Homo sapiens: one gene and its partners. The protein of the gene in region 5 purifies or fractionates together with the protein of the main gene of each other region. This does not show direct contact. Each region holds a gene or a part of one and is shown on either strand. Other genes may lie near its edges.

Region 1 (3,500 bases), about 130 Mb from region 5:
ACTGACTCCAAAAGACAATGGACAGCTGAATTGGAGTTTTCATGGAATGCTCATCAATGTAATCAGCAAGAACGCAGCTTCCTTAACCAGAAGTTCAACTCACCAAAGAAGGATGCCATCTGCAAGTGACTTGAAAAGACTATCATCATTGGGATTCATGGGTATAAGATGCTTACAGTCAGGGTCATTCTCCAGGGCTTTGTTTATCCAGTTAACAAAAGCCACTTTTTCTTCCTCTGAAAGGAGAAAACCTTGGTAGGCAAATCTCATTTCACAAACTTTATTGCACTATAAAAACATACATAGCTATTGCACTACAAAAACATACTTGTTAATTTCTGCTCAAAGATAATAATTGACCATTATTACAAATCTACTAAAACACAAAAGGGTTCAAGAAAAGAAGAAAGGTGGCTGGGTGTGGTGGCTCACGCCTGTAATCCCAGCACTTCCCAAAGCACTTCCAAGGCGGGCTGATCACTTGAGGTCAGGAGTTCAAGACCAGCCTGAGCAACATGGAGAAACCCCCGTCTCTATTGAAAATACAAAAATTAGCCAGGCATAATGGCACATGCCCATAGTCCCAGCTACTCGAGAGGCTGAGGCTTCAGGATTGCTTGAACCGGGGGGTGGAGGTTGCAGTGAGTGGAGATCCTGCCACTGCACTTTAGCCTAAGCCACAAAGAGAGACCCTTTCAAAAAAAAAAACGGGGAGCACGGTGGCTCACGCCTGTAATCCCAGCACTTTGGGAGGCTGAGACGGGCAGATCACGAGGTCAAGAGAGCAAGACCATCCTGGCCAACATGTTAAAACCTCATCTCTACTAAATAAACAAAAATAAATTAGCTGGGCATGGTGGCGTGGGCCTGTAATCCCAGCTACTTGGGAGGCTGAGGCAGGAGAATGACATGAACCCAGGAGGCAGAGCTTGCAGTGAACCGAGATCGCGCCACTGCACTCCAGCCTGGTGACAGAGCAAGGCTCTGTCTCAAAAACAAAAACAAAAAACAAACAAAAAAACAAACAAAAAACTGATCTATTAGGAGAGATGAAGGTATATATCTTAAATGAGCACAATATATATTTGGTTTGATTCAAAAATATTTCCAAATATGTATTGCTTCTGAAAGCTAATGAGTCAGAAGCAGACCATCGGAGGTCAAATATGTATATGTTAATTAAATAAGGAAAAAAATACAAGAAACAAATACCATGGCAATAAATCCCATCCTCCCCAAAAGGTTTAGAGAGCTGTGATTTTTAGCTTACAACAGAAATACTGAATTCAGTCAAGAGTTATTCAAATGAATAAAACAGCTCAATTTCAATGGAATTTAACTATTAAAAAATTGACACAAATTGGCTGGGTGCGGTGGCTCATGCCTGTAATCCCTGCACTTTGGGAGGCTGAGGTGGGCAGATCACCTGAGGTCAGGAGTTTGAGACCAGCCTGGCCAACATGGCAAAACCCCATCTCTACTAAAAAATACAAAAATTAGCCAGGTGTGGTGGCAGGCACCTGTAATCCCAGCTACTCTGGAGGCTGAGGCAGGGAGAATTGCTTGAATCTGGGAGACGGAGGTTGCAGTGAGCCGAGATCACGCCACTGCACTCCAGCCTGGGCAACAGAGCAAGACTCTTGTCTCAAAAAAACAAAAAACGAAGAAAAAATTGACACAAATCTAGATACCAGCACTATCTTTGGCCATCTTCATCCAACAACTTCTCAACACATGGCTTCTAGTATGGGTACATTGATCTTAAGTAGAAAATTTTGTTGGGTTATGCAGTGGGGAAAATAGGAAGGAACTTAAAGTAAAAACATTGTACAACTTTATTATTATTCTGTAGATATAAAAACCATTTAAGATTATAAATCCTTAAAGTAAATAATCCCCATTTCCATCAGAGGGTAGCACATAATGATTTGGCCTTCTCCATTGTTGCCCCAGTTCCTAGAATTAAGTAATTTTCCCAAGGGAATATTTTGCAGGTACCCCCAAAATTTAATCCACCACACATACATACACACACAAGTCAACAAAAACACAAATATGTACTAATATTTCCTCTTTGTACATATCATAATCTGCCTTATCTTCTCGCCTCCTCATACACACCTCCTTAGAAGGATTTGGAGTCTAGGAATTCAGAGATCACTAAAATACTGTATCTGCCATTGAGGAATTTTTTAGTGTAATTGTAAAACAAATATACAAAGAAATGTGATATAAGGGAAATACACACACCACCAGAAATATATATGCAATGTTTGCAGAATTTAAAAAAAGAAGCAATCACTTTTAGTTAGGGTGATCAAGAAAAGGCTTCATAGAGGAGGTACTATTTGAAATATAGTTTTTCAATAGGTGAATATAGGCAAGGAAAGAAAGGATGTTTCAGGTATAGGAACCAGGAATGAGATACCACATCACAACCACTAGGATGGCTGTAATTTTTTAAATGGACAAAAACAAGTGTTGGTGAGAATTGAAGAAACTGGAGCCCTCATACATTGCTGGTGGGAATGTAAGATGGTGCAGCCACTTTGGACCTTGAGAGCTTGTTTGGAAGTTCTAGCAGGGGAGTGCAGCTACTCGTATACCCTTGACCAAAGACCAGTCCTCTTCTATTGGGATGGTTGTCCTCTTCAACCGAGCACGCAGCTTCGGGAAGGACTCACATGGAGCACTGAGGGAGGAAGGGGACACCTGCCTAGCCAGCCAGATCAGCCAAATCAACCCTGGCAATCAATGGGGTGACAGATGTCGCAGCCAGATCGCCCTCACAAGTGCAGCCACTTTGGAAAACAATTTGGCAGTTCTTTAAAAATGATAAACATAGAGTTAACAAAAATTCAAGCAATTCTACTCCTAAGTATATGCCTACGAGAATTCAAAGTATATGTCCACACACAAATGCATTCATGAGTGTTCATATAGCATTATTTATAATAGCCAAACACTAGAAACAACCCAAATGTCCATCACCTGATGAAAGGATAAACAAAATGTGGTATTGCCCATAGAATGGAATATTCAGCAATAAAAAGGAATGAAGGGGCCAGGTACCATGGCTCACACCTGTAATCCCAAGGCAGGCAGATCGCTCGAACCCAGGAGTTCAAGATCAACCTGGGTGACATAGCAAAACCCCATCTCTACAAAAGATAGAAAAATTAGCTGGGCATGGTGGTACACATTTGGGAGGCATGGTTATGCACTTGGGAGGCTGAGGTGGGAGGATCCCTTGAACTCTGGAGGTCGAGGCTGCAGTCAGAAAAAAAGGAATGAAGTATGATATATGTGACAACATGGATAAGCCTTGAAAATATTACACCAGTGAAGAAGCCTGTCAAATGAAAGGCCACTACAGTATGATACCATTTATATGAAACTTCCAGAATAGGCAAATTTGTAGAAATAGAAAGCAGTTTAATGGTTGCAGAGCCTTCGGGAAGAGGGAAATGGGGAGTGACTGATAATGAATATAGTGTTCT
Region 2 (3,500 bases), on a different chromosome or scaffold from region 5:
TTTTTTTAGCAGCCGTTTTCTTGTTAGCAGGTGAATATCTCTGATTTTTAGTTTACTTTTGATGTGTGCAAGTGTGGTTTTGAGTTTAATTCTGTCTGTAATTTGCTGAGTCTCTTGTATCTATAAATCTGTATCTTTTACCAATTTTGGAGGTTTCAGCCATTATTTTTTCAAATCTTCAAATATCTTTTCTAACAGAATCTCTCTTCAGTTCTTCTGGAACTCCAGTTATCCATATTTCATTTGTTCCTTTTGATATTGTCACACAAGTCCCTGAGGCTGTTTATTTTTATAAAAATCTTTTCTCTCTTCTTCTAATTTCTATTACTGTATCTTTAAGTTTACTTTTCATTGTCATCTCCATTCTGTTATTTAACCCATTTGATCAGTTTACATTGGATTATATTTCAGTTATAAAATTTGTTTTAATACATTCTATTTCTTGCTAGAATTTATTTTAATTTATTTCAAATGTGTTTTCCTTTACCTAAAGGAACCAGTTATGGAAGCTGCTTTAAAGTTTTTCCCTGATACTTCCAACATCTGAGTCATTCTGGAGTTGTCTTTTCCTTGAGAACTGGTCACATTTTCCTGGTCCTTTATACCAAGTAATTTTGGATTTTATCTTGGACACTGAATATTATGTTATGTAGCCTGGGTACTGTTATAATACTTCCGAGATTGTTGATGCTCTTGTTTCAGCAGGCAAACACTTGAGTTATATTCAGACTGTAATTTGTGTTTTACTTTTTGTAGGCAGTGAACTTGCAGTTCAGTTACTTAAGCCTTTTCTATTCCAGTTTGCATCTGTCCCATAACTGTGCAGGTCAAGGGGTAGGGTGAAACTTGTATGGGATTCCCCTCAAACTTTCTGCACAAAGAGGCCTCTTTCTCAGGCTTCTCTGTTCAGGAAATATGGGGTTTCTCTTGAAGTTTATCTGCCAGAGGTGCCATGCCATGATGTGACTGCCCTTGGGGCAAAGATGCATGAGGAAAGGAAATGATAAACTCATTTCTGTGTTGGTCTCTCCCCAGAAACTGCCTGCTTTTATTTATTTTTCAGAGTCCTTAGTTGTTTTTTATATTTTGTCTGGTTTTTAAGTTGTAATCAGTGGGAAGGATGGGCTGTGGTGGCCTTACGTTACCACAGTGGAACCAGTATTCTCACCCCAATTCCTAAAGAATATTTTTGTTGAGTACAGAAAAATAGGTTGACAGTTATTTTCTTTCAGCACTTTAAAGATATCTTTCCAGTGTCTTCTGACATCATAGTTTCTCTTCAGAAGACCACTGCTCCTTTGCAGGTAATGCATCTCTTCTCTCTGGCTCAAGATTTTTGCTTTTTATTTCATTTTCAGTTCTAAAATTTAGGTTTGATTATTTTTAATACATTCCAATTATCTAGTGAAATCTTCCATCTTTACAGTTATTTTTTAAACCTTTTCCTTTATATTCTTGAACATATTATAATTATTTCAAAGTCCCTTGTTAATTCAAACATCTGGATCACTTGAGGGTCTCTTTCCGTTATCTGCTTTCTTCATTTTTTAGCTATGTTCCTGTCTCTTGGCATAGCTATTTTTAATTGAGTGATAGACATTGTATATTAAAAACTGTAAGGATTCTAACTGATGTTTTATTTCTCCAGAAAAGGTACAATCTTTTCTCTGTTGATAGAGTAAAAGCTGATTATTTTAACCAAATCACAGATAACCTGAGTCAAGTCTAGGTTGCAATTTTGGTCAGGCTTAGTCTACCTCTGGTTTGCCAATGGTCCTAAGGCATACCTCTGTAAGTATTCCAACTGAGGCCCTCCTCCCTCTGGCAGCTCCTGAATCGAGCTATTATGATTCCAGTACCATGAAACTTCTGAGAACTTGATTTCTCACAGACGTTCTACTTACCCTTCTCATGCAGTATCAAGTATTTGGAAAATGTCTTGAAGGAAGAAAATCTTCAGTGTATTTGAGGCCCTTAAAGTCTTCAATTTTGTCTCTCTAACCCACAAGTTCCCAAAACTTCTGATAAGGGAAAGCCTAGATTTACAACCTAGTGCTTCATGCCCATAATGAGCAAATCCCCTCAGGGAGAAAGTGGCTCTAGAACTTCAGCTCACCTCTCTAGAATCCTGCCTCTCTGCTTTCTAGTTACTTCAGCAGTTCTCTGATGACTTTAAACAGATACTTTCTCTATTTCATCTAGCTTTTAGCTCTTAGGGGAAGGTATGTAAGTCTATCGTAAGTTACTCCATCCTAACCAGAAGGGCAAATCATATGCCTGACTGGTAATTTTTGAGGGCATATTGGACACATTATCTGGAAAAAAAATCTGCATCTTGAAGGAAATACTGAAATTCAGTAAGTACTTTCACGTGACACTAATTCTTACTCCAGCTACAAATCACTCTTTCAAAACTGAACTACAAATATAACCTTAGTAAGTTTTCTTTTCTTTGAAGTTATTATTTCAGTTCCAATTCTGATACTTACAAAACTTACATACCCAATGAGTCCTTTTTATAAAGCTATGTTTAGAAGAATAGTTAAAACGAGTAAGGGGCTTTTGGTGGTGATGGATATGTGTGTGTGACAGTAAAAGTAGCAAATACTAACCAAACTTACCTTAGATGATGTGGTGTACATGGTGAATCTTGAATACCATTTGCTTGCTTTCTCTGCAACTCCTTTTCCAGCAGTGAACATACTGTTTCTTAGAACATCTAGTTTAGGTACTAGTAGTGTATCTAAGTTAAATGAAGGTGATGAGTGGGTTAATGTATCCTGAGATTCTTCCCTAAATGGGCAAGTAGGTGAGAAGGCTGGAGAAGACCAAAGTCTATCCCTTGGTTTCTCCTCACTTTTTGTGTAACTTTTAGATTTGGTAAGTCTCACTGGCTTAGGAGAATTAGGAGGCAGACTAGATCTTCTGCATGCCTTGACCAATGGTGGACTTTTCTTATTTAATTTATCATCACATGCCCGTTGTAAATCAATGCTTGGTGTACGACTTGTCAAAGGACTGCTCATGTTATTCATATACATCACAATTTCTTCAGCTAAATCACGCCTAGCAGATGGTGTTGAAATGCTTTTGCTATCATCTTCATCCTCCTCCTCTTCTTCTTTTTGCTGCTGTTCAGTCTCAGCAACCAAAAGAGAGAGGGGATCAAATCCTGTTGCGACATCAGTTTTTTCAAAAGGTTTTACTGAAAAGCTGCTGTTCATACGTTGAATCCTCTTGGGATTTTGTGTAGCAACACATCCTGCTTTTGATACATCTGTTTCACTGTCTAAGTCTTCTAAGTCAAAAATAACAGGAGAATCCACTTTATCTGCCAAATAGTTAGAACCATCAAAAGGTGTATCATCATCACTAGATTCCTTTTCTAGACTGTCTCTTTTTGATCTTAAAGGTGGCTTCCCAATATCAAGAGTATTTGGTCTCGTGCTTTTTGAGATAACATTTGAAAGAATTTTTGCATCAGCTCCCAATTTTTCAAC
Region 3 (3,500 bases), on a different chromosome or scaffold from region 5:
ATGACTTCAAGTTTTTTCTCTTTCCTCTTCTCTCCCCAGGCTCTCTTTAAACTGTGGGGCTCCCCAGACAAGTATCCCAAAGACATCCTGACATACACTGAATTAGTGTTGGACTCTCAGGGCCAGCTGGTGGAGATGAACCGACTTCCTGGTGGAAATGAGGTAATAGCTCAGCGGAGCCTAACCCCTGGCTGGAGTCACCCCCTTAAAAATATTTTTGGGCCAGGTGCAGTAGCTCACACCTGTAATCCCAGTGCTTTGGGAGGCCAAGGTGGGTGGATCACTTGAGGTCAGAAGTTCAAGACCAGCCTGGGCTACATGGTGAGAACCTGTCTCTACATAAAATTTTAAAATTAGCTGTGTGTGGTGGTGTGCTCCTATAGTCCCAGCTACTCGAGAGACTGAGGCAGGAGTGATTGCTTAAGCCCAGAAAGTTGAGGCTGCAATGAGCTGTGATTGCACCACTGCACTCTGGCCTGCGCAACAGAGCAAGACCCTGTATCTAAAAAAAATAATAATAACTAAAATAAAATAAAAAGTTTTCCCCCAAAGAAACAAACTCATTTTCCTTGTGCATTCATCCCCTTGCCAGGTGGGCATGGTGGCCTTCAAAATGAGGTTTAAGACCCAGGAGTACCCGGAAGGACGGGATGTGATCGTCATCGGCAATGACATCACCTTTCGCATTGGATCCTTTGGCCCTGGAGAGGACCTTCTGTACCTGCGGGCATCCGAGATGGCCCGGGCAGAGGGCATTCCCAAAATTTACGTGGCAGCCAACAGTGGCGCCCGTATTGGCATGGCAGAGGAGATCAAACACATGTTCCACGTGGCTTGGGTGGACCCAGAAGACCCCCACAAAGTACGTCGTGAAACTGGCGGGGCAGGGTGATTCTGCTCAGCTACTACTGTATTTTCAGTGGGAGTGCTAGCACCTGCAAGAGGTGAAAAAAATCTCACTTATGTATAAAGCACAGATGTACATGTAGTGTATAAACAGGCATACAGTGTATCAGTGATACTAACATTTCACTGTGGCGGGGGGGATGGTGATGAGAAAAAAAAGATCTAAAAAGGCTCCTTAACGGGGATAATGAAAAAAGTCTATAAACCCTGAGCTGATATACACTGAGCGCTCCTGAATGCAGTGTGCACTGAGAATGCAGAGGTGATTGTGTCAACTCCCTGGCCTCATAGCGTTCTTAGAATTATGGCTCACACCTGTCATCCCAGCAACTCAGGAGGCTTGGGTGGGAGGATAGCTTGAAGCCAGGAATTCATGACCAAGCTAGGTAACCTAGGCAGCATAGCCAGACTTCGTCTCTACTAATGAAAAAACTAGGTGAGCATGATGGTGCCTGCCTGTAGTCAGCCTCAGCTACTTGGGAAGTTGAAGTGGGAGGATCACTTGGAGCCCAGGAGTTCAAGGCTGCAGTGAGCCATGATCATCATACCACTGCACTCCAGACTGGGCAACTGAGTGAGACCCCCCATCTCAAAAAAAAAGAAAAATCTTTGGGGAGTTGTATAGATACCAGCTTGCCATAAAAGGCAAGATGAATGAGGGAAGCGCACGCATTCTGTGATGTGAAATGACAGGGGACAGTCATCCTTTCCATTCAGAGCATGCATTCTCGGGGGCGATATTGCCCACTACCCCCAAGAAGACAGAAAAATAATTTTTGGGGTGGCAATAAAATAGTTTTTAACATATATACATATACAGAGTATGTAAATAGTGGTTAAACAGTGTATCTTGAAAATTAAAATTTCATGTTGGGGTGCTGGCAATAAGAAATAAAAATGAGATAGTCCTTAGAGGAGAGCTTAGCTCAAAGCAGAACTTCAGTTTATGGCTGTTATTAATACGGTATTTACATGAGATGTGTTAATGTGTCATTGACATGTTACTAACATGTTATTAACATCCATCCCTACGATGTTCACATTAAGAAAAAAAAAACAGTGGCTTTCAGTGCAGGGAACTGGATTCGTAGCCTCACTAAAGTATTTTTTAAGGGATTTAAATACCTGTACCTGACTCCCCAAGACTACACCAGAATCAGCTCCCTGAACTCCGTCCACTGTAAACACATCGAGGAAGGAGGAGAGTCCAGGTAAATAACTTATCAGGTAGCTCCTTAATTTTGCTCATGGTTAATTTCAGCTGTCTTCTTTCCTCGGGGCTTGTGGCGATATTTTCCAGTGGGGTGGTGGTGTTTGTATGATGGGAACCAATGCCTGTTGGGGGCACTGATGCCTTAAACATTTGTTAAACTCTCCAAGGTGAGTCCATCCTTGTCATTCTAAAATGAGTGACTCCTTTCACAAAAAATAGCACGTCATGTAGGGAGAATGAGATTGGATTCTCGTGAATCTCCTAGGAGCCGCAGGCTCACATTTTGTGACCAAACTGATGCAGCGGTGACTTGGCAAACTGGGAAGGTATGGGTGGGGCAGAGAGAGGTCTGTTCTTCGAGAGCATTCAAAGGCTACTATCTTTTCCAGGACAAGTTATGTTTTTCTCAGTGGGATTAACTGACTCAGGATTTCCTAGACTGGGTTTTTTGCAATGTTAGTGACAAGCTGGGGGGAAATTCCATAGTCAGATGAGTTTGGGAAACACTGGGTTAAATGAGATCTCATAAACATCTTTATTGCAGACCTTCTTAGTACCTGTAGCATGCTGTATTAGTCAGCGTTCTCCAGAGGGACAGGACTAGTAGGATATATGTATATATGAAAGGGACTTTATTAAGGAGAATTGACTCACATGATCATAAGGTGAAGTCCCATGATAGGCTGTCTGCAAGCTGAGGAGCAAGGAAGCCAGTAGTGGCTCGGTCTGAGTCTAAAAGCCTCAAAAGTAGGGAAGCCAATAGTGCAGCCTTCAGTGGCCAAAGGCCTGAGGGCCCCTGGCAAACCACTGGCGTGAGTCCAAGAGTCCAAAGGCCGAAGAACCTGGAGTCTGATGTTTGAGGGCAGGAAGCTTCCAGCATGTGAGAAAGATGAAAGCCAGAAGACTCAGCAAGGCAGCTTACTCCACCTTCTTTCACCTGCTTTTTCTAGCCGCGCTGGCAGCTGGATGACTGGATGGTGCGCACCCACATTGAGGATGGGTCTTCCTCTCCCAGTCCACTGACTCAAATGTTAATCTCCTCTAGCAACACCCTCAAAGACACACCCAGAAACAGTACTTTGCATCCTAAAGTTGACACTTAATATTAACCATCACACATGCTAAAGTGCATTGTGAATCTCTAACAGAGGCTGGCGGGACAGTGTTTCTCATTATGTGGCCCTGGAATTTTTGATTGATTGATTGTGAATGGGTTTCCTCTGTGTACCCCCATCTCTCTGTAGACCGTTGGAGGAATATGGGCCGAGGGTGATATTTCACTGAGACAGCCCCTGAACAGGCAGATATCTTTGGTTGTATAAACCAAAAAGTATCTGAGACAGGTCTCAATCAATTGAGAAGTTTATTTTGCCAAGGTTAG
Region 4 (4,253 bases), on a different chromosome or scaffold from region 5:
CAGAATACAGGGGGATTTTCATTTCTTGAAATAGTGGGCTAGGTAATTGAAACCAATTCTCCACCTCTGCACTAAATATGCTGGAAATTTGTCAAAAATAATTTTTTTTTTGAGATAGGGTCTCGCTCTGTCACACAGACTAGAGTGCAGTGGCATGATCTCAGCTCATTGCAACCTCCACCTCCCAGGTTCAAGCGATTCTCCTACCTCTGCCTCCCGAATAGCTGGGATTGCAGGTGCCCGCCACCATGACTGGCTAATTTTTGTATTTTTAGTAGAGACAGGGTTTCACCATGTTGGCCAGGCTGGTCTCAAACTCCTGACCTCAAGTGATCTGCCCACCTCGACCTACCAAAGTGCTGGGATTACAAGTGTAAGCTACCACGCCCAGCCAAAAATATTAATTCTTAAATAGAAAAGCTAACAAGATAGTAAAGAATTTGGACACAATCTAGAAGGTGAAAACCAGAAATTAAGCCCAATATTCAAAATGGATTTCATCCTGAGGACTTCTCTGACCTAAAAGCTAAAGTTTCAGTGCCTTTATGAGATAACAGAAACAAGTTCAAGCCAGGAGCCCATCCAGGGAGTGGAGTCTGACAACTACCTCCCTCTCCATCTTAATCTTGTGCCCAAAAGAACTACAGCTTCAAAGTAAAGGTGAACTGGGAAGTAAAACAGCAGGAATAATGGACAACAGAAACAGACTCCCCCAAAGGGAATTCAGACAGTGGAATTAAACATAGAGATTATAAAAACAACTATACTTTCCATGTTTAAAGAAATAAAATTAAGCCTCAAAATAGTAAGAAATAAAAAACTGTAAAAGTGTCACAAACCAAACAGAACTTCAGAAACTAAAAATTGCAATATATGATTTAAGATTTCAGAGGCCGAGTTTAATAACAATGGAAATAACTTGAGAATAAATTATCCAGAATGTACTACGAAAGAACAGAGTAAAAGACATAGAGAAAAGAGTGAAAAGGTTTAGTTAAATCGATAAAAAAAAAAAGAGAAACAATGGGAAGAAGCAATATATGCATATAAAATGGCTGAGAATTTTACAGAATTAATGAAAGACACTAATCCACAGATTCAAGAAGTCTAATAAATACCAAACAAATTGAACAAAAACAAACCCATAGTTCCATAGAGCATAGTGGAAATACAGAAAACCAAACACAAAACAATCTTTTTTTTAAACTTGTCGATACTTGATTTTAGACAAAACAATCTTAACAACATATTCTATAGTAAAGAGTGAAACATAATATTTAAGAATGAAGACAAAGTATGTTCAAAAGGTGACTAATGGTGAACACGTTGAAAATGCTTAATTTAGCTGCCATAAAGGCATAATTACACTATGACTGACCCTGTACGTACATCGCACTTGTTACTTGATTTACCACATACGTGGTTTTCAATAGCTAAAGCAGCAGCTTGATTCTAACCAAGCATCACCATTCTTGGAAGATGAAAGTGAAGACTGATAATCAACTAAATGGTTTTGACACAATTATTCCTTTCTTATATCATGAAGCACTTCCCCACAGGGTAAGGACATGAAGACTTCAGTTGAGAAAGATAATCGGGCAGCCTCTACTTTCAGATCCTTACAAATTGTTCGCAGGTCATCTAACTAAAAGACTGTAAAAGCTGCTGTCGGCTCAATACTTTGTATCAAAAAGGAGTCTACCCACTGATTCCCTTCAAATATTTCAGAAGGGTGCCTTCCATTTTATGGTGTCCCTGTGGACACATGAATACACCAAATAACTGATGAATCGACAAATCTTATGTCACAGGTGGTAGGCAAGAGGTCATCGGGAATTCCGATCACCAGGCTCGCATCTGGCTTCTTGGGTCCCACTCCTGAACTAACCAGTCGGGCTACCCGAGCGTGCGGGAGTCTGAGAAACTGCATTTTAAAAGGGCCCCAGGAGATCTTGTTTTCCACTAACATTAAAGAACCACGACTACGAACAAACAGGTCTCCCCCTTTCCTCTGTGTGGACTGACAGTCACAAGGACCACCAACTCTCAAGCATGACGCTTCAACTCTCTTTGTTTCTTAAGTTTTCTGCAAAACGGGCCAGCTGGCTTGTTTTCCGTAATAGAAAATTCGCTTGGCACAGCAACTGGTACATGGCACACAATAAATGTGCTTCCCATCCTGCACTGCCATTCTGGGATTCAACCATTTCCAACCAGACGCCGCACATCCGAGTGAGTAACCTGGACCTGTTCCAAGACCTCTGGAACGGAGCCTGCTACTCACTTGAAACCTGGGTGGCCCTACCTAGCAGAAAATTGGGGAAACCCCATTAAACGCCCGGCAGTGTTGGGCCCGCCTGAAAGGGTCCTCGCCGCGACCCAGATGCCTTCCCGCGGGCACCCTCAGCTCCCCTCAGGCTGGGCCCGCAAGCCCCAGGCTTCGGCTACTCCGGACAAGGAGCGGGTGCGCGGACTGAGAACAGGCCTGGCCCTAACCCTAACAGCAGCCGCAGCTCATCTCTTCCGTAAGGAAGCTGGAACCCAGGTGTCGCCGCCAGGCCAGGACCGAGGCCGCACTCACCTACCGGCGCGCGGGAGGCGAGACGACCTCACCTCGGCGGCGCCCACCCCAAACCGCCACCGCAGAGCCGCTCGCTCTTAAAAAAGAAAAAAAAATGAAAGGAAGAAAGAAAGAAACAGAGGAAGGAATGAATGAAAGAAAGAAAAAAAAAAAGAAAATAGCCTTTGCTTTTGTATTTCTTTTGACCCTTCAGGGCTTCCTGTTCCTCACCGCCACAATAGAGTCCCGCCCCACTTCCGGCGACGTAACCCAATCCGCGGAGCTCTTCCTCCCCGGGAGCCCGATGGAAATCCGGTACCCTGAAAACGAGCCGGAGAGACTTGATTGGGCCATTCACGCCTCAGGATGAGGACTGGCCAGTCTGCGCCTGGAGGGCGGGCCGGTCCCGCTGATCACGTGACACGATTTTTGAAAGGTGATTGGCTGTCAAGGAGAGGGCTTGCCACCGAGGAAGGGGCGTTTCCTAGGGGACTGAGGGAGGGCTGGGGCGGTACGAAGCGGGGGTGGGCTCTGCGCGTAATGGCAGCGCCGTGGCCTCGCGTCCATCTTTGCCGTTCTCTCGGACCTGTCACAAAGGAGTCGCGCCGCCGCCGCCGCCCCCTCCCTCCGGTGGGCCCGGGAGGTAGAGAAAGTCAGTGCCACAGCCCGACCGCGCTGCTCTGAGCCCTGGGCACGCGGAACGGGAGGGAGTCTGAGGGTTGGGGACGTCTGTGAGGGAGGGGAACAGCCGCTCGAGCCTGGGGCGGGCGGACCGGACTGGGGCCGGGGTAGGCTCTGGAAAGGGCCCGGGAGAGAGGTGGCGTTGGTCAGAACCTGAGAAACAGCCGAGAGGTTTTCCACCGAGGCCCGCGCTTGAGGGATCTGAAGAGGTTCCTAGAAGAGGGTGTTCCCTCTTTCGGGGGTCCTCACCAGAAGAGGTTCTTGGGGGTCGCCCTTCTGAGGAGGCTGCGGCTAACAGGGCCCAGGTGAGAGGCAGCTATCTATCTCCTGGGGTGGCTCCTGGTACCGATGGGGTCCTGACCTACTCAGGGGTGCCCGGGATAGAAAGGGTAGATGAAGGGACGCTTTAGGAGGGTTCTTTTTGTGGAGTTTACGGTCTAGGTGGCACGGATGAGGCATACCTCCCCGGGGAGATTTAGAAACGCCTTGGGATAGAGAGAGAATGGGGCTAGGAAGCAGGAGCTAGAACTAGCGGAATGTCCTACTACGGAAGCCGGAGCTGAAAATTGGGTAAGGACCTTGGGGAGAGGGGATTTCTGGGCGGTGATGGGAAGAAGACACCTCCATCCACAGGAAAGCCAGAGTGGGGAGTAGTGAAAGGGAAACGGGAATTATTCCCTCTCTCTGTAGATCGACCAGGTGTCCCAGACACAGGATCCAACTGCTTCCGGGCTTATTGCCCGAGTGGGGTGGGGAGAGTCTATCCCACCAACACCCCTTGCGTGAGTCCAAATTAGGCATTTGTCTCTCCTGCTGCCTCACTTTCCCCGTCTTTGGGGAGGGAAACCGACTGAGACCGAGGCGGTCGGCTGAGACTCCGAGGTCCTGTCTTGTATAGTTCTCTGAGAGAGGTTGCTCCCCCTGGAGTGTTGTACTTTGAACTTTGAAGGGTTAGAAGTGTCTGTTATCGACTGAGTAGAATCCCGCAGTTTTCCAGGCCCTTTACCTACCA
Region 5 (3,500 bases):
AAACGTAGTAATAAAACAACATGGTTTGAGAATGGAGACAAATGTATCACTGAGACAAAACAGAGTCCCAAAACAGACCTGTATATACTGTATATATAAACAGGAATTTTGTATATTATATGATAAAAGATAGACAAAGGTGACAATTAGACAAAAAGGTAGATAATAAAGATGACAATTATGAGTGAGGAAAAAATTTCTCATTCAATTTACTGTGTTTAGAAGAACTGGCTACCCTTGAGACAAATGACTACCCTTGAGACACAGGCCCACGGTACCAGTTCAAATTTGGAGAAGCAGAACATTAGAGAACGACCCCCTCTCCCACACCCCACCATCGAATCTCCAAGAATAACAGGAAATTGCAGCTGGGAGAGCCACAACAGATAGACTCTTTGGGAAACGGTACAAAGGGAAGACCCAAATCCAAGAGAGGAGACAAAAACAAGTTGCTAGAGGGGTTTGAAGTCTCTGGTGCCCACAGCAACAACAAACCTCACAGACAGCAACAACAGACTTCAAACAACAGCCCAATTCCTGACTAGATTGTTACAAATCCCTATCCCTCAGTATCTACTGGCCCTTATAATATGTCTAGCTTTAACCAAAAAGTAGAAAACATCCCAGAAGGCAAAAAACATAGTGTGAAGAGAATAAGCCATCACCAGAGCCAGACTCAAATATGACAGATGCTGGATCCAAAAGCTTGGGCATTTAAAATAATTATGATTAAAATGCTAAAGACTCTAATGGAAAAGACAGACAACATGCAAAATCAGATACATAATTTCAGGGATGGAAACTATAAAAAGACTCTAAGAGAAATGCTAAAAACCAAAAATATGGTAAAAGAAATGAACACTTTCAATAGGTTTCTCAACAAAACAGGTACTGCCTAGGAAACAGTCAGTGAACTTGATGATAGGATAATAGAAATTACACAAACTGAAAATGCAAAAAGGAAAAAAGTGGGGGAATAAACCCTATAACAACAGCATCTAAGGGCTGTGGGGCAATAGAAAATGTTACACACATAACTGGAATCCCAGAGGGAGAAGAGAGAACAAGAGCTAAAGAAAGAATTCAAAGAAATAATGACCCTAATTTTTCCAGATTAAAAAACATAACCAAAATTATAAAATAACTATATAACCAAAAATTAGTAAGAGCAATATATAGGTGATTATGTCTAAATCCTAGGAATAGCTGGGCGCAGTGGCTCACACCTGTAATCCCAGCACTTTGGGAGGCTGAGACAGGAGGATCGCTTGAACCCAAGAGTTCGAGAGCAGCCTGGGATAGTGAGACCTGATCTCTAAGAAAAATAAAGTAAATCCTAGGAGTAAAGGACTCCTAAACAAGACATAAAATAGAACTTCAAAAGGAAAAGATTAATATTTTGCCATGATAATTTAAATCCTGTGTAGCCTGGGCAACACAGCAGGACCTCATCTCTACAAAAAATTTTTAAAAATTAGCCAGGCATGGTGGTGCATGCCCATGGTCCCAGCTCAGGATGCTGAGGATCACTTGAGTCCACAAGGTCGAGGCTGCAGTGAGCTGCAATTTGCACCACTATACTCCAGCCTAGGTGACACAGTGAGACCTTGTCCAAAAATAAAATAAAATAAATCCTTGTGTAAAAAAAAAAGAGATACTGTAAAGCGATGCTGAATAAACTAGAAGAAATGTTTGCAACATACATACCAAAATATCTAGAATATATCCTGAAAATAAGAAAGAAAATGACAAACCAATAGAAAAATGGGCAGAGGTTATGAATGGACAACTCCTACTACAAACTTCATGTGGGTGGGAATTTTTGCCTGTCTGTTCACTGTTTAACTCCAGTGCTTAGAACAGTGACTGGCACACATTAAGCTCTCAATAAACAAATGTGGACTAAATAAACTCACAGCTAACTATTGCTATCAACCTTCCACAAGGCCTTCAACCTCTCTGGTAATAAGGAAAAAACAAATTAAAATATGGAGGCATTATTTTTTGTCCAAAAGATTGGTAAATATAAAAAAGACTGATATCAAGAGTTGAGGCAATACAGAAAAAGGTACCTTTACATTATTGGTGAAATTATAAATTAGTATGAGCTTTTTGGAAGGAAACTTGGCATTGTCTATTAAAATATAAATGAGCATGCTCTTCTTCCAAGGAATTCTGCTTCTTCCATTATTCATCACAGACAAATGTGTACAGACATTTTGGGAACATATATATGATGCTGATCACATTAACCCTATTTGTAAGAGCAAAAAAATAGAAACAATTCAAATAAATATAAATAGGGTAACTGTTTTTCTTTTTTTTTTTTTTTTTTGAGACAGAGTCTCGCTCTATCACCCAGGCTGGAGTGCAGTGGCATGATCTCAGCTCACTGCAAGCTCCGCCTCCCAGGTTCATGCCGTTCTCCTGCCTCAGCCTCCCGAGTAGCTGGGACTACAGGCGCCCGCCACCATGCCCGGCTAATTTTTGTATTTTTAGTAGAGATGGGGTTTCACCATATTAACCAGGATGGTCTCGATCTCCTGACCTCGTGATCTGCCCACCTCGGCCTCTCAAAGTGCTCAGATTACAGGTGTGAGCCACTGCACCAGCCAGGTAACTGTTAAAGTATGCTATATCCATTCCATGGAATATTATAACAGGTAAATAAAATCTACATGTACTAACATGAAAAACTCTGCAAAATATAATAATGTAGAATGAGGAAAGCATGTTATGGTAAATATGATACCACAACTATTTTTAAAAATCTACTGTGTATAAAGTGGACAGACTTAAGTCCTTATTTAAAACATCGAGACTTTCTAGATGTTTAGAAGTGCACAAAGTATGTTAAAAGTAGGGTAGTAAGTAACACATTTTGTAGATATCCTTTTGTTAAAATTCACTGAAATATTACCTTTTGGAAATGTAATGATCAAACCACTTCTCTAAGCAGTACACATCATTACATTTGTACTGCGTCAGGAGAAAAGGAGGAGAATAAAGTGCAAAGGGCTTTATACCAATGTGTTTACAGTGAGGCAAGATTGACCACTGTACCTTATGTCCATGCATTTTATTTTACTTTGCTATGTATATAGTGTATATGAAGGACAAATGAGCCCTAATTTACAACATCTAGTTCTAGATGTTAAAGAGGTTGACAGCGTATGACCAACGTAGAGTCAGTAACCTAATACACTGAGTACATTTTGTGTTCAAATTCATAGGAAAGACTGTTCTTAAAAACACTTAGGGAAGTGAAATTGTTAAAGTCCCCTCTAAGCACTACAAATGCTTATATCTATCCACTGAGTTGACAGGTGGGAAGGGTTCTATGCCAGAATGTTCGTTCCTATTTAGATGACACTTTCAAATGGCAGCTTATTATGTACGTGTAACATTTATTCACGTTTTCAGTTCTTAAGAAGGACTATCCTCTGGGAGTGACCTTTGTTAATTGACCTCTTAGAACTAGACATAGTCCTGTACTTAGT
Region 6 (2,767 bases), on a different chromosome or scaffold from region 5:
TTCTGAGGTCTGCATAGAAAGGCATGGAGAATAAGGGCACAGGTTTTTCTATGCGCCTTGGTTCTGTGAAGACTTTTTGGATACTGCAGTTTGGGCAGCCTGGATTGTTATCATAATACCACAACATTCTTCATCACCAATAAATTACACAAATCCCTTGGAAGTTTTCATTCCAAGACATTAAAGCAAATAATACAAGATTACTACCTAATTTTTTTAAACTCTTGGGTGATCTTCCTATACTCTCTACATATTCTTTAATATCAATGATTCACACAGAGCAGCATGAGATTTATCCATTTCAGTACAAAAACAGATAAATCAATATCAGAAAGGATCTCTTCTCTGAACATGTACATGTTGAATGTAGGTTGGGGCTGCTCAGACCTCAGTCTGCTTAGCTTCAGAAAATCTATCATGAAAATTCCTTAATATACAAAAATAATCCTTGCATGTGGAGATTTCTTAATTCTCCCTTTTCTAAGTCTTAAGAAAAACAGCCACCAGTAACTGAAAATGTCTTAATTTGTATGCGTATTCTAATTATGAAGGACCTGTCTAAAAGTTTTCTGGTAAAAGTACATTAACTGTGTACTCAAGTGAAAGGCTACTTTTAGAGTTGGTTCATGCAGATCTTTAGCTTAGTCTCCTGAAGACAGAGAGCACAAAAGTGTGAGCTCAAGGCCAAATACTTGGAACAAACAGCAGACAGAGGCTCACTGCAGACCCATATGAACAAAAGGACCACAGGAGACTCACAAACTAGATTCTCCCTAGCTTTGGAGTACATAATACTGCAATCAACTGCACAGATTCAGTTCTCCAATTTTTCCAGATTATTCTGAATATTTAATTAAAATAAAACTAAATTATTTAATTTGAAAACAACCATCATCACATCTTCTATTACATCAAAGATATTCTTCTTTTCTAAACCAGATGACAATTTCTTAGTCTGCCTCAAAGCTGAGAGAACAGTATTCAAAAAAATTCTAAAATTCCACAGGTATCAGAAATAATGTTTACAAGCCTCTGAGATAATGTCCACGACATTTCAGGTTTATCAATAAATAATATTTTTAATGCAGCTTCAAAATGATTTTTAAACAATTATCTTAGTATTTCCATAGGATTTAGATGAACTAACCAGACAATCCTGTATTTCCAACATCAAAATAAATTTCTGAATTGGAAATTTGGGAGTTTGCTTCCCCTAAATATCATATCAAGCTCTTCCTTCACACCTAGGTGGTTATTTTCAGATGCAGCCTCAATTGAATAAAATGCTTTAGCTCTTACCACCAAAAATATCAATACATTGTAAATCACCTACCAACAGCAAGGAGTAGTTGCTCTAAATTGCCAGAAGTCTCGCGGTCAATGGTTTCCTCAATTTGAAATCCTGATATAGTCATGTACTTGTCAAACACTAGAAAAAATAAAAATGATTCCCTAATCATGTAGGGATCACTCTTTCCAGAAAGATGGTATTTACTTTGATTAGGTAGTGTCTTACTGAACACAAATCTCCCCTTCTTCCTTGCTGACAGAACCTTGTGCTCAAAGCCTCAATGTGCCAAGCCCTAAGCAATGGATTGTAAATATACTTTGTTCACTGATTGCCAGCCCCCTTACGAGTTATAGCCAATGAGACCTAAAGGTAAATCTACTGGAGGGGATGCTGAGAAATCTCCTCACTTACAAAAAGTGATACACAGATAGGACTAGTTTACCCTTTTCTTTCCTTCCTGCTGTGAAATGGTTAAGTTTGGAGCTAGAGCAGACATCTTATGATAATGAAGAAAGAAAACCAAAACACTAGGGATAATGGAGCAAAAAGAAAAACCAGAAAGATCTCAGGTCCTGCCAAATCAACCATGGAATCCCACCTCTGGAAAAAAAGCCCAATTTTTAAAGCCACTATTAGGGTTCTCTGTCACTTGCACTAAATTCATTCCCAACTGATACCACAAGTGCTGATGACTATCCAGAGATAAGGTCCTGGGTACCAACCTCTAGGAGGAAATACGTGTAGTGAGCCACTATTCAGTGATGTGTGACTATGAGAGGAACAATCTAGAGAACTGACCTCCCTTGCCATCCTCCAATAGTGAAGGGTGGACTCAGGATCTCTAGTTTGTAAAAGCTACAACAGCAGCAAAAACAATGTTGAGATTTCTCCAGGTCACCAAAAGGAAGAAATACAAAAACTGATTCATTCTCTAAGTCCCTGCTATGTAGCAGGTATTCTGTCACACTGGCTCATGCACTTTCCAAATTTACCAATGTATCTGCCCCATACAGATTTTTTTCACTCACCCTTTCTCAAATGAGACACACTTCGTGTTCCAAAGATGGTGATAAACTTTTCTTCATCTGTCCCCCATTTAAGTTCTCCAGCCTGAAATAAAGCCTGCAAAAATTTCAAACTCAATTAATAAATTGTTCCTCCATCTCATTTCCAGGTTCTTAAACACACTTGTTTTTTACTCCCTGAATTTTAACTCACTTGATTCATCATCTTGTATTAATAGTTTTCATTTCTAATGTGTCCTACTCTGAAACTCAGCTCACTGAGTTTGGAGCACCTTTGGAGCTTGCCACTGAACTGTGCCACAGAAGATTCATGGGTCCAAGCAACAAAGCACGGCAATGGTGCAAGGTTACATGTTCCCAAAATGTCTGCCATAACCTCCAATCTTTCAGAAGCAACAGTATGGGTCAGGAGAAAGTTATGACTACCTCACTGTTGATACATCCATGTATA
Region 7 (3,500 bases), about 130 Mb from region 5:
TGTCAAGAACTTCCTAAAAACTGCCAATACAGACTTGCAGGAGAATCTGAGAGGAGAGATTCCTACAACCACACAGTGTCAAATACAAAAACAATTTTGGGGTGATTACCAAACAGCAAAATCAAAATTATTATTTCTCTATATTTCAAAAGAAAAGATTTTTTCCTTTGTATTCATTCTTAGTTCTTCTGAAAGGTTTATATTTAAATAACACAATGGCCATAATGCAATCTTTTTCTTAGAATGTACAATCCAAAAGAAAGGAGTATAACCTTTCCTATTCACATTTTAAAAACCACTTTTTATGGAGCCCAAAACAGTATTTGATGGCAAAGGTTTGAAAAAAATGCAGTTGACCAATTAGTAACTACAAAGTGAGAATATAACCTAGCGTAAAAAACTCAAAAGCAAAATGAAACCAGATCCATCAAGACCAGAAAACAAAAGCTCTTTATTCACTGGAAAACCAATGGAGAACTAAAAATGATCCTCTCCCAAAATTTTTTAAGAGTGAAGTTTTCCACTTCACTATTATTTCAACTATATCTCTTAATGAAAAGGGGAGTGTATATGAACAAGAAACAGTATATTCAAAACTTAGATTCTTACTTTTGATTTTCTTCTTCTTCTGATTCTTCATGCTGGTCAAATAATTCCCATTTAGAAGTTGTAACAGCTGAATGAAAGGAAAAGGAGGATGTAATTCCACGAGGTAAACTAGCATTTTTTCAGTAGTACAGTGGAAGCTCAAGCTTTAGAATTGAAAAGTTTATATTACAGAAGTTTTTTTAATCTATGTTTATCAATTCTCTAAATAGTTATTTCTATATGCCAAATCTCTTTCCTCACACCTACAATATAATTCAAATTCATGAAGTGACGAATAATGTCATCCTTATTTCTGTGTTGAATATTAAGATTTATTTCATTAGAACCTACAAATAGCAACAATTAGATTATTAGCACTAGGATACAGGTCTAAGTAAGTGTGAAAGACAGGTCTAAATTGCATCTAATCAGTCTAGCATTATGGGAGGGTCAAAGCTTGGTTTCTATGAAACTGACCTCTATGTAGATTTCTACGTAGGTACAGCTTCCAATCTACATTTGCTACTAAAATGCCTTAACCTGAAAGGTTTTCAGTGATATCTCATTACTCTCAAAGCTTCCAAACTGAAGGACCTAAGAAAATTGTAACAGCAACACCAACCACAATAAAAGCATACATTAGACACAAAATATGACAACATTGAGCATTAAGGTTAAAACGTGTTATAAAACATAAAAGGAAAACATATATACAAGCACACCAATAATTAACGTACAAGTACTTAATTTAAAAAATATTTATTTTACTTTTACTCACCCTGTGCTTCCAATTCAGATTCATCCACAGCTTCCCATTTTGATGGGGCAACTTTAAATATAGGCTCATTCTTTTTTGAGTCTTCAGTTGCATCCACTATTAGGGAAAGATAAGCCATTAACCCTGACTACTAGTGGATGACCCGAAGTATTACATTCATGGGTATTCACCATATTATTAAAAAGCAAAGTAAAATAAGGACACAGATGGACAAATAGTAATACTAAGAACAAGGACTATGACTAAACCAATTCTCTGCATCTGAGGGCAATATTTTTAACAGTATATATATCAATTCAGAAAATACAGGTTAGTAATATATTAAGCAAGTGAAGAAGTTGAGAAGTAAAACAAATCTTTAATATCTTTACCTAATCTCTGAAATATAAAACTGCATACATTATTCAATATTTAAACATATAATTCAAATGTACCAAAGAGCTGTCTACAGTTCCTATTTTCAAAATGATTTTAGGCAGCTAGGAAAACTGAAGTTGTAAGTTAGAAAAACTAATAAAAACTGATAAAACCAGGTACCTAGGATCATGCATAACTGAGCACAAGATTTTGCCTATAATTTCCTGACAAGACAAAAAGAGAAACTTGCTAATATTATAGGAGGCTGATTGTCCCAGCAAAGAAATGTGACCAGAAAAAAATGCTTCTTCTTGGCCTTTTATATACATAGCATACAAATAAATGTATTACTGGGTATATGAATTTTGAAAAAAATCAGAAATAGAAAAGTTAATAACTTGATACGTTCATGAGAAACTATAACCTTTTTCCATATCAGCATGTATGGAAATTAGAGTTTTGGTCACCAAATGTATTAGCTAGATTTAATCAGTTTGAAATCTGAACTTACAAGGCACTCCATCAAGATCATCATCAAGACTTTTTATAGGGACTCCATCAAGATCATCGATGGGAGTAGCATCAATAGGAATTCCATCTACATCTTCCAGAGGTGCACCATCAAGCTCTTCCTCGATGGGGGCACCATCAAGGTCATCTGGAACATCCTATGGAAATGTGTACTATTATAACATTTTCCTTTGCTTGCTGAAGTCACATTGCTTGTAAGATTAATTTGTAATCCAGTACAAGCCAACATAACTGGATACCCACAATCTGAGGTACAATGTAAGAACATATTCTATCATCCAGTTTGCTAAAGAAGCAGTCAGTTGTGCATTTATCTAATATTTACCAAGTGCTCACTGGTGCCAGGTACCTTGTGAGGCAATGATGAGCAAAAACAAGTTTGGTCCCCCTGTTATAGAGCCTGGTAAAGGTTTTTGCTGTTGTTTTGCAGGGGTGGGGGAACCAGGAAATCAGATCATCACAACAATATATACTTATCTGTAACTATGGTAACTGCTACAGCAAAAGGGCGTATCATACTATTAGCATACTAAGTTTCACTTAAAGAGGTCAGAGAAGGCTAAGGTTATGTTTGAGCTGAGATCTGAAGGATCTCAGGTGAAGATAAGTCCCAGAAAGAGGGAAGGACATGTACAAAGTCCAATGGTAGGTGGAAACACACATTTAAGAAACTGAAACAAGGACCACGTGGGTTGCAACAGTAAGGCCAATTAGGAAGATCCTGCAGGAGTGAAAGTGAAAACATAATAGCTTGACTAGCATGGCAGAATTAAACATTAAGGATTCAGTAATTATTTAGGAGGTAAAAAAGAAAAAAAACAACAGAATGGTGATGTATATCTGCTATCATGTGATGCATCTTTTCATGCACATATTTTACTTATATAGCTATCTTTAACAAAATAAAGTCATGCTATACATATTGCTCTATTACTTGCTTATTTTCTACTATTAACAATATATCATAACTCTTATATCATTAAATAAAAAAAACACTCACCAATTTTCACATAAGGACACAAGACAGAGAATTCCTGTTACATGTAATTTTGACTTCTGGGTTCCAGCAATAAAAATCCACTACTTAATGGTAAGCAATAGATATTTTTCACAAAGAAATGTACCTCACATATGTAACACAGAACAACTCCAAGAAACCTCCACCCCAGAAACGAATTTTAAAAACAACCAGACAAATACAGACTGCCTACCTCTGTTTCCTTTTCTTCAATAATATTTACAAGTC

Evidence for each region.
Region 1: the proteins of METTL6 (region 5) and PLS1 purify together in Homo sapiens (affinity purification with mass spectrometry; 3 studies listed by BioGRID and IntAct, with this or other methods). This does not show direct contact.
Region 2: the proteins of METTL6 (region 5) and DENND4A purify together in Homo sapiens (affinity purification with mass spectrometry; 3 studies listed by BioGRID and IntAct, with this or other methods). This does not show direct contact.
Region 3: the proteins of METTL6 (region 5) and ACACB purify together in Homo sapiens (pull-down; one large-scale study listed by IntAct). This does not show direct contact.
Region 4: the proteins of METTL6 (region 5) and PSME3IP1 purify together in Homo sapiens (pull-down; one large-scale study listed by IntAct). This does not show direct contact.
Region 6: the proteins of METTL6 (region 5) and ANXA5 purify together in Homo sapiens (pull-down; one large-scale study listed by IntAct). This does not show direct contact.
Region 7: the proteins of METTL6 (region 5) and U2SURP purify together in Homo sapiens (pull-down; one large-scale study listed by IntAct). This does not show direct contact.

Annotation. Positions count from the first base shown.
Region 1 is NC_000003.12:142,672,893-142,676,392, reverse strand, and holds part of PLS1 (plastin-1), read right to left. Parts: intron 237-3,500; coding exon 104-236; intron 1-103. UniProt on the Homo sapiens protein: Actin-bundling protein. In the inner ear, it is required for stereocilia formation. Mediates liquid packing of actin filaments that is necessary for stereocilia to grow to their proper dimensions.
Region 2 is NC_000015.10:65,687,794-65,691,293, forward strand, and holds part of DENND4A (C-myc promoter-binding protein), read right to left. Parts: coding exon 2,622-3,500; intron 1-2,621. UniProt on the Homo sapiens protein: Probable guanine nucleotide exchange factor (GEF) which may activate RAB10. Promotes the exchange of GDP to GTP, converting inactive GDP-bound Rab proteins into their active GTP-bound form.
Region 3 is NC_000012.12:109,245,587-109,249,086, forward strand, and holds part of ACACB (acetyl-CoA carboxylase 2), read left to right. Parts: intron 1-39; coding exon 40-162; intron 163-592; coding exon 593-862; intron 863-2,019; coding exon 2,020-2,117; intron 2,118-3,500. UniProt on the Homo sapiens protein: Mitochondrial enzyme that catalyzes the carboxylation of acetyl-CoA to malonyl-CoA and plays a central role in fatty acid metabolism.
Region 4 is NC_000016.10:57,183,240-57,187,492, forward strand, and holds the start of PSME3IP1 (PSME3-interacting protein), read right to left. Parts: upstream 2,801-4,253; 5' UTR 2,582-2,800; exon of another isoform or gene 208-2,581; intron 1-207. UniProt on the Homo sapiens protein: Promotes the association of the proteasome activator complex subunit PSME3 with the 20S proteasome and regulates its activity.
Region 5 is NC_000003.12:15,417,545-15,421,044, forward strand, and holds part of METTL6 (tRNA N(3)-cytidine methyltransferase METTL6), read right to left. Parts: intron 1-3,500. UniProt on the Homo sapiens protein: S-adenosyl-L-methionine-dependent methyltransferase that mediates N(3)-methylcytidine modification of residue 32 of the tRNA anticodon loop of tRNA(Ser), including tRNA(Ser)(UGA) and tRNA(Ser)(GCU).
Region 6 is NC_000004.12:121,670,214-121,672,980, forward strand, and holds part of ANXA5 (annexin A5), read right to left. Parts: intron 2,414-2,767; coding exon 2,320-2,413; intron 1,430-2,319; coding exon 1,334-1,429; intron 1-1,333. UniProt on the Homo sapiens protein: This protein is an anticoagulant protein that acts as an indirect inhibitor of the thromboplastin-specific complex, which is involved in the blood coagulation cascade.
Region 7 is NC_000003.12:143,036,070-143,039,569, reverse strand, and holds part of U2SURP (U2 snRNP-associated SURP motif-containing protein), read right to left. Parts: coding exon 3,466-3,500; intron 2,392-3,465; coding exon 2,235-2,391; intron 1,463-2,234; coding exon 1,367-1,462; intron 677-1,366; coding exon 610-676; intron 1-609.